2 linked regions of the Homo sapiens genome follow. The protein of the gene in region 1 purifies or fractionates together with the protein of each later gene. This does not show direct contact. Each region holds a gene or a part of one and is shown on either strand. Other genes may lie near its edges.

Evidence for each region.
Region 2: the proteins of KANSL2 (region 1) and KAT14 purify together in Homo sapiens (affinity purification with mass spectrometry, with the first as the bait; one large-scale study listed by BioGRID). This does not show direct contact.

What each region holds. Positions count from the first base shown.
Region 1 is NC_000012.12:48,661,739-48,665,238, reverse strand, and holds part of KANSL2 (KAT8 regulatory NSL complex subunit 2), read left to right. Parts: intron 1-3,500. UniProt on the Homo sapiens protein: Non-catalytic component of the NSL histone acetyltransferase complex, a multiprotein complex that mediates histone H4 acetylation at 'Lys-5'- and 'Lys-8' (H4K5ac and H4K8ac) at transcription start sites and promotes transcription initiation.
Region 2 is NC_000020.11:18,161,863-18,165,362, reverse strand, and holds part of KAT14 (cysteine-rich protein 2-binding protein), read right to left. Parts: coding exon 3,124-3,500; intron 2,987-3,123; coding exon 2,418-2,986; intron 1-2,417. UniProt on the Homo sapiens protein: Component of the ATAC complex, a complex with histone acetyltransferase activity on histones H3 and H4. May function as a scaffold for the ATAC complex to promote ATAC complex stability. Has also weak histone acetyltransferase activity toward histone H4.

The sequences.
Region 1 (3,500 bases):
AGTCTTTTGACAGGAAGCTGATTTTTATTTTGCTTATTAAATATTTTACTAATTTATTAATTACAACAGATGTCTGATAAGAGATTATTGTTCTTAATATATAAAATGGTTGTGCAAAGTAATGAAAAACTCTAAAGATAAATGCTTACAGCCTGGACAATACAGTAAGACCTCATCTCTAAAGAAAAAGAAGAAAGAAAAATTATCTGGTCACGATGGCATGTGACTGTAGTCCTAGCTACCTGGGAGGATTTTTTGAGCCTAGGAGTTTGAAGCTGAAGTGAGGATCATGCCACTGCATTCTACTTTGGGTGACAGAGGAAAACCCTGTCTCTAAAAAAAAAAAAAAAAAAAAAAAAGCGGGCGCAGTGGCTCACACCTGTAATTCCAGCACTTTGGGAGGCCAAGATGGGTGGATCACGAGGTCAGGAGTTCAAGACCAGCCTGGCCAAGATGGTGAAACCTCATCTCTACTAAAAATACAAAAAAAACTAGCCAGGCATGGTGGCGGGTTCCTGTAATCCTTGCTACTTGGGAGGCTGAGGCAGAGAATTGCTTGAACCTGGGAGGTGGAGGTTGCAGTGGGAGGAGTTCACGCCACTGCACTCCAGCCTGGGCAACAGAGTGAGACTCCATCTCAAAAAAAAAAAAAAAAAAAAAAGGCCAGGTGCGGTGGCTCACGCCTGTAATCCCGGCACTTTGGGAGGCCGAGGCGGGCAGATCACGAGGTCAGGAGGTCGAGACCATCCTGGCTAACACGGCAAAACCCCATCTCTACTAAAAATACAAAAATTAGCCGGGTGCGGTGGTGGGCGCCTGTAGTCCCAGCTACTGAAGAGGCTGAGGTGGGAGAATGGCATGAACTTGGGAGGCGGAGCTTGCAGTGAGCTGAGGTTTTGCGCCACTGCACTCCAGCCTGGGCGACAGATGTGAGACTCTGTGTCAAAAAAAAAAAAAAATTGCTTAAAACATAATTGGGCAGAGGCTATGGGCAGATTTAAAAGAAGATAGAAAAGGCTAATAGGGCCGGGCAAAGTGGCTCTCACCTGTAATCTCAGCACTTTGGGAGGCTGAGGTGGGTGGATCACCTGAGGTCAGGGGTTCGAGACCAGCTTTGCCAATATGGTGAAACCCCATCTCTACTAAATATACAAAAATTAGCCAGGCGTGGTGATGGGCACCCGTAATCCCAGCTACTCGGGAGGCTGAGGCAGGAGAATCGCTTGAACCCGGAAGGCGGAGGCGGTGAGCCGATATCGTGCCATTGCACTCCAGCCTGGGCGACAGAGTGAGACTCTGTCTCAAAAAAAAAAAAAAAAAAAAAAGGCTAATAGTTAAAAGTGTGTATCTTCACTATAAATACAGTTGGCCTTTGAACAATTCATGGGGTTAGGGTGCTGACCCCCTACACAGTTGAAAATTTGTATATAATTTTTGATTCTCCCAAAATTTAACTGCTAATAGCCTTATGGCTTACTGTTGATCAGAAGCCTTATCAACAACATAGCTTCCTAACACATATTTTATATGTTTATATGTCTTATATATTGTGTTCTTAAAATAAACTAGGAAAAAGTGTTACTAAGAAAATCATAAGAGAAAATATATTTACTGTTTATTAAATGGAAGTGGATTATCATAGAGGTCCTTATTCTCATGGTCTTTTTGTTAAGTGGAGGGGGAAGTGTTATTGTCTGTGGGATGACAGAGGCAGAAGAAAATGCACGTGTAAGTAGACCCGTGCAGTTCAAGCTTGTGTTGTTAAAGGTCAACTGTAAATAGGAAATAAGGAAAATTAAAAATCTATAAAATTGATATTTGTACATATATTTGTTTTAAAATAAAATTTAAAATATACAATTTTTCAAAAATGAGTCAGTGAATTTCAAAAGTAGGTGAGAGTATGGTGAAATTGACCCTTCTAAATATTGCCAGTGGGAATATAAATAGATAAAAGCTTTTTGGAAAGCAATCTGACAGTAATTCATATTTCCTCATATGGTAATTTTTACCTCTGGGAATTTATTTTAAGGAGATAATCAAATGCAGACCAATATTTTTACATGAAATATTCTTCCAACTTGAGACAGCCTTAACATTTTTAGAGCTGGAGAATAGGTAGATAAATTAATGACACAACATAGTGTGGAATATTTTCAGGCATTAAATATATTTAACAGAATTTATGAATGACAGCAAAATGATAGTGACATTCCAGGATATGGAATTCTGTACGGTGTCTGAAATTGCATGAAACCAAATACTGGAAGGGAACAATACAGAAATGTGATAATTTGTGCATGGTGTGGTTGTGAATGCCCTTTTTTCACTGTTCTTTTATTTTTTGTTTTTTTAAGGCGAGCATGAATTACTTTTATAAGGGAAAAAACTCAGTTTACAGATACTAAGGACTATTTTAGATATTATAATACTGTAGTCAAATAGCTTATTAAAATATAAATATAAAGCAAAATTGAAAATGTATTTGAAAAGAGAAGGGAAGTATTTTTTTTCCTTTTATGCTCTTTCCTTTCCACTCCATAGTTGCCTAAGTCACTTACCCTTCCTTAAGTCCTTATCCCAGAGAAAGATGCGACTGCCATTGGTGACCTGTTAACTCTTTACTGTGGTCTAATGGAGACAGCACTCGACTGAAAGTGAAGGACCCAGACTCTAGTTGTAGGTTAACCATTCCCTTCTTTTTACCTCTTTTGCCCCATCTGAAAGGAAAGCGGGTGGAGGATGATGGGGGGAGTCCTTTTTTAGGATATTGTGGTATTAAATACATAAGAGACTTGTGAAAGTCCTTTGAATTCCAATAAAAAAAAGTTCTTGGCCAGGCGTGGTGGCTCACGCCTGTAATCCCAACACTTTGGGAGGCTGAGGCGGGCTGATCACCTGAGGTCAGGAGTTAGAGACCAGCCTGGCCAACATGGCGAAACCCTGTCTCTACTAGAAGTATAAAAATCAGCCGGGTGTGATGGCAGGTGCCTGTAATCCCAGCTACTTTGGAGTCTGCGGCAGGAGAATCTCTTGAACCCAGGAGGCAGAGGTTGCAGTGAGCCGAGATCACGCCACTGCATTCTAGCCTGGGTGACAGAGCGAGACTTCGTGTAAAAAAAATTTCTGGTTGAAACATTTAATGGATAATATTTTAAATATTAAGAGTGGGCTTCTTAAGCACATTAGATATTGCTTAGATTTTCTTAAGCGCATAGTGCAAATCTGATGATTCCCATTAGATTCATATGTTTATTCATTTGATCATTCAATAAATATTTGTTTGCCTTGTACTATCTTCTGTTTCTTTAGAGTAGTGGTTTTCAACTGGGGGCCATTTTGTTTTCCAGTTGGCAATGTGTGGAGAAATTTTTGGTTGTTACAACTCAGATGGAGGTGCTACTGACAGCTAGTGGATAGAGGCCAGGAATGCTGCTATACATCCTTCTTCCAACAAAGATGTACCTGGCCTACAGTGTTGGTAGTGCCACAGTTGTCAC
Region 2 (3,500 bases), on another chromosome or scaffold:
AACATATGCTTAAGGGGGACACAATTCAGTCCACAACAATGACCCAGAATGACTATTTAGCTTATCTTCTCCAGGAAACTTCATCTAATAGTGGCAATTTACTTACACAGCTAGATTTATGCTTGCTACTCAGTATTTTTTTAAACGAAAAGTATATCATTTAGAGACATACACATTTAAAAAGCAAAAGAATAATTAACACTGTAAGTCAAAGTGGCTTCCTCTGAGGGGAACAGAAAGTACACAGGAGACTTCTAAGGTGTTTACAACACTCTTTATCCAGGAGATGAATACATGGGCATTTATTTTACTAATATCTAAATTATACCATATTTCTATGCTGCCTTCTATCTGTATGACACATCTTACAATTTAAAAAATTAAGTATAGGCAGTAAACAGACAGGCCCACAAGAATAAGAACAAAGAACAGGTGAATATTGGCCAGGCGCAATGGCTCATGCCTGTAATCCCAGCACTTTGGGAGGCTGAGGCGATCACTCGAGCCCAGGAGTTTGAGATCAGTCTGGGCAAGATAGTAGGACCCTGTCTCTACTAAAAATAAAAATTAAAAAAAAAATTAGCTGAGTGTGGTAGTGTGTGCCTATAGTACCAGCTACTTGGGAAGCTGAGGTGGGAGAATTGCTTGAGCCTGAGAGTTCGGGGCTGCAATGAGCTGTGGTTGTGCCACTACATTCCAACCTGCGTGACAGAGAGAGACCATGTCTCAAAAAAAAAAAAAAAAAGAACAAGAACAAGTGAATAGATGACTAACAAAAGCATATGAACAAGCAGCAAATGACTTAACAGACCAAAGAAAGCCAATACCTAAGCCAGTGGTGAAGCTAAGCAGGGTGATTTACAAAACACAGCCTCAGGGAAGTGTAGTCACCTAAGGCATCAGGCTTAGAGCCTGGGGGGTATGACTATGGATTGTGAGGCTCTTTAAGAGGTTAAAGGCTCCAATTATACCCCTATAGTAATTATACTGCCCACATCTAGGAAATGATCTTTCCCTCCACGGGCAGAAGACTGGAGAGGCTCAAGAGGGAGATTCTGGACACAGGAAGCCAAGGGTGGGAGTACTGTACTGAAGACAGGGAGAGTCAGTTTACCTCCTAAACGATGGGCTCCTGGGCCCTCCCGACTTGGCTCCTGGTAGGCAGGCCAGTTAATACTGTGCTTCCCAGGAAAGATGGGAATTAGGAAAAAAAAGAAAAGAGGATCTATCTGGAGTAGGGATCTTGGTAAACTATAGCCCCCAGGCTAAATCCAGTCCACTGCCCATTTTAGTAGATAAAGTTTTACTGGAACACAGCCACACTCATTCACTACGGCTCTCCAATCACAACAGCAGAGTTGAAGAGTTCCGAATGAGATTTTGTGGCCGGCAAAGCCTAAAATAATTACTATCTGGCAGAAATACTTATTTCTTTACAGATAAAGTTTGCCAACTTTTAATCTACAGGGTCCAATATCCAAATAATGGGGAGTTCTAAAATGAGAGAACAGAAAAAATAGAAGATAGGAAATCAAGACTTTTCCATACTCAGGAAAGAAAGTTTCAAATTGAAAGGGCCCACACACCACATGTCCAGCACAAGGAAAGACATAAGCCCTACATACGGCACATCACTGAATAATACCAGAACACCAGCAATGAAGAGCAGATCCCACTAGCTTCCAGAGAAGAGAGAAAAACATGCAGACTCCAAACAGGCAATTCACAAAGAAACAACCAGGAAATTTAACCTCACCTGTAACCAAAGAAATATAAATAAAAAACAAGATTTCACTTTACAGCCAGCCAATTAGCAAAACTTAAAGGCTGGTTAGTGTCAAGTGCTAGCAAAGATAAAGGGAATAAGGCCTCTTGTTCCTCCCAGTGGGAGAGTATATACAGGTAGTTCTAAGTGGAATTAATTGTTCCCAGAAGCATCCACAAAATTTGGGTTCCACCGACCATCCTTTGAGCAACACTGATACCACACTGATCCCTTGGCTGCTATTTCTTCATGTTGTCCTTCGCAGATGTCTACACACCTTCAGATCCTCTGCAACACAGTGTCAGAGACACCGTCATGGCCTCAACAAATTTGTCAAAGCTACGACACAAACCATGCATATCTATCCTCAGAGAGAGAGAGACAAGAGAGACAGATGAAGAAAACTTATAGGTTATGTTTGAATGCCTAAAGGAAAAGAAAAACTCAGATGTATTCAGGTGTACTTACAATGAACAATTCTGAAAAATAAAGCCCAGCGATTTTTGTATTTTTTTCCCTTGCACTTTACTTTTCTCTTCCCAAATTACTCAGGATTTAAAAGGTCACAGCATAACCATGTCCAATGCCTAGTGCTGCCTGCCCCACCTCCACTCCTGCCCCCAAGGGCTTTACAGCAAGTGCTTGCATTCACCTGGTATCGGTCAAGGATTCTGAAGTCCTGACAGGTGGTTCTGTACGTGGCTTGTCCAGCTGGAAGTCTGGAAATTCCTCCTTCTTTGGCTCCATAAATCCCGTCAACTAACAAAAGAGCAGCATTAACAACTTGATCCAAGTCAAAAAGTGGTAATCCCCTATCCCTTTTCGCTTGTCTGACAATCAGTTTGCGTTTCAGTCTCCGAGCTTCCGGAGTCATGGCAACAGCACCGGGACAAGCTTCCAGCCTCTTGAGCAGCAGCTTTTCCTCGTAGATGCTCACGGGAGTATACCTGGGCTCTTTCGGCTTTGTGTCCTTCTCCAGCTGAGGCTTCCTCTTTTCTCTAGCCCTTGTTTGCAAAGATGTGTTTGAATCTGTGTCTTCACTGTCAATATCCATCCTGTCGGGTTTTTCCTCCTCACTCTCTACCTCCTGCTTTATCTGTTCAGGGCCTCTGACCTTCTTTCTGACCCCAACCACTGGCCCAGAAGCTACTGACCCAGCAGGGGGTGGGACGTACTCCATCCCTGGGTCTATGACTCCATCGCCTTCCATCTCATCGTCATCTGTGCAGAGTACAAAACAGTGTCATCAAGACATAGGAAGGAAGAAATGCAGAGCACACAGCCCACGGGGTGAAAACTTGTACATTTATACCATGGCCCATACCCAAAATAAAAGAGCAAAGCAAACAAACTCTTACCATGAAACAAGGCTTGTGGGGGCATCACATCTGGAATCAGATCTGCTTCTGAAAGCAAGCTAGGTGTGGCAGAATGAGAGGCAGGTGTACCAGGGGCAGAGAAATCCAGAGAAGGAGAAGGAGATGGGCTTGTCAGCGGGGTGCGGTCAGAGGAGCTCAAGGAGGAAAAGTCAATCACTTCGCCTTTTTCCAGAATCACATCTGGCCTGCGGCCTCGGCTTATGAATTTTACAGGGGTAGAAGATGTGCTCCTGTCAAGAAAGCCAGCGGCCTCCTTCTGGGCTCTTCTAATGTCTTTTGCTTCCTGAGTTCGAGACCTTTTCTCTTTTAATTCCATGGCAGATTCCACAGGATTCCGACTTGCTCGTTTTCTAAGT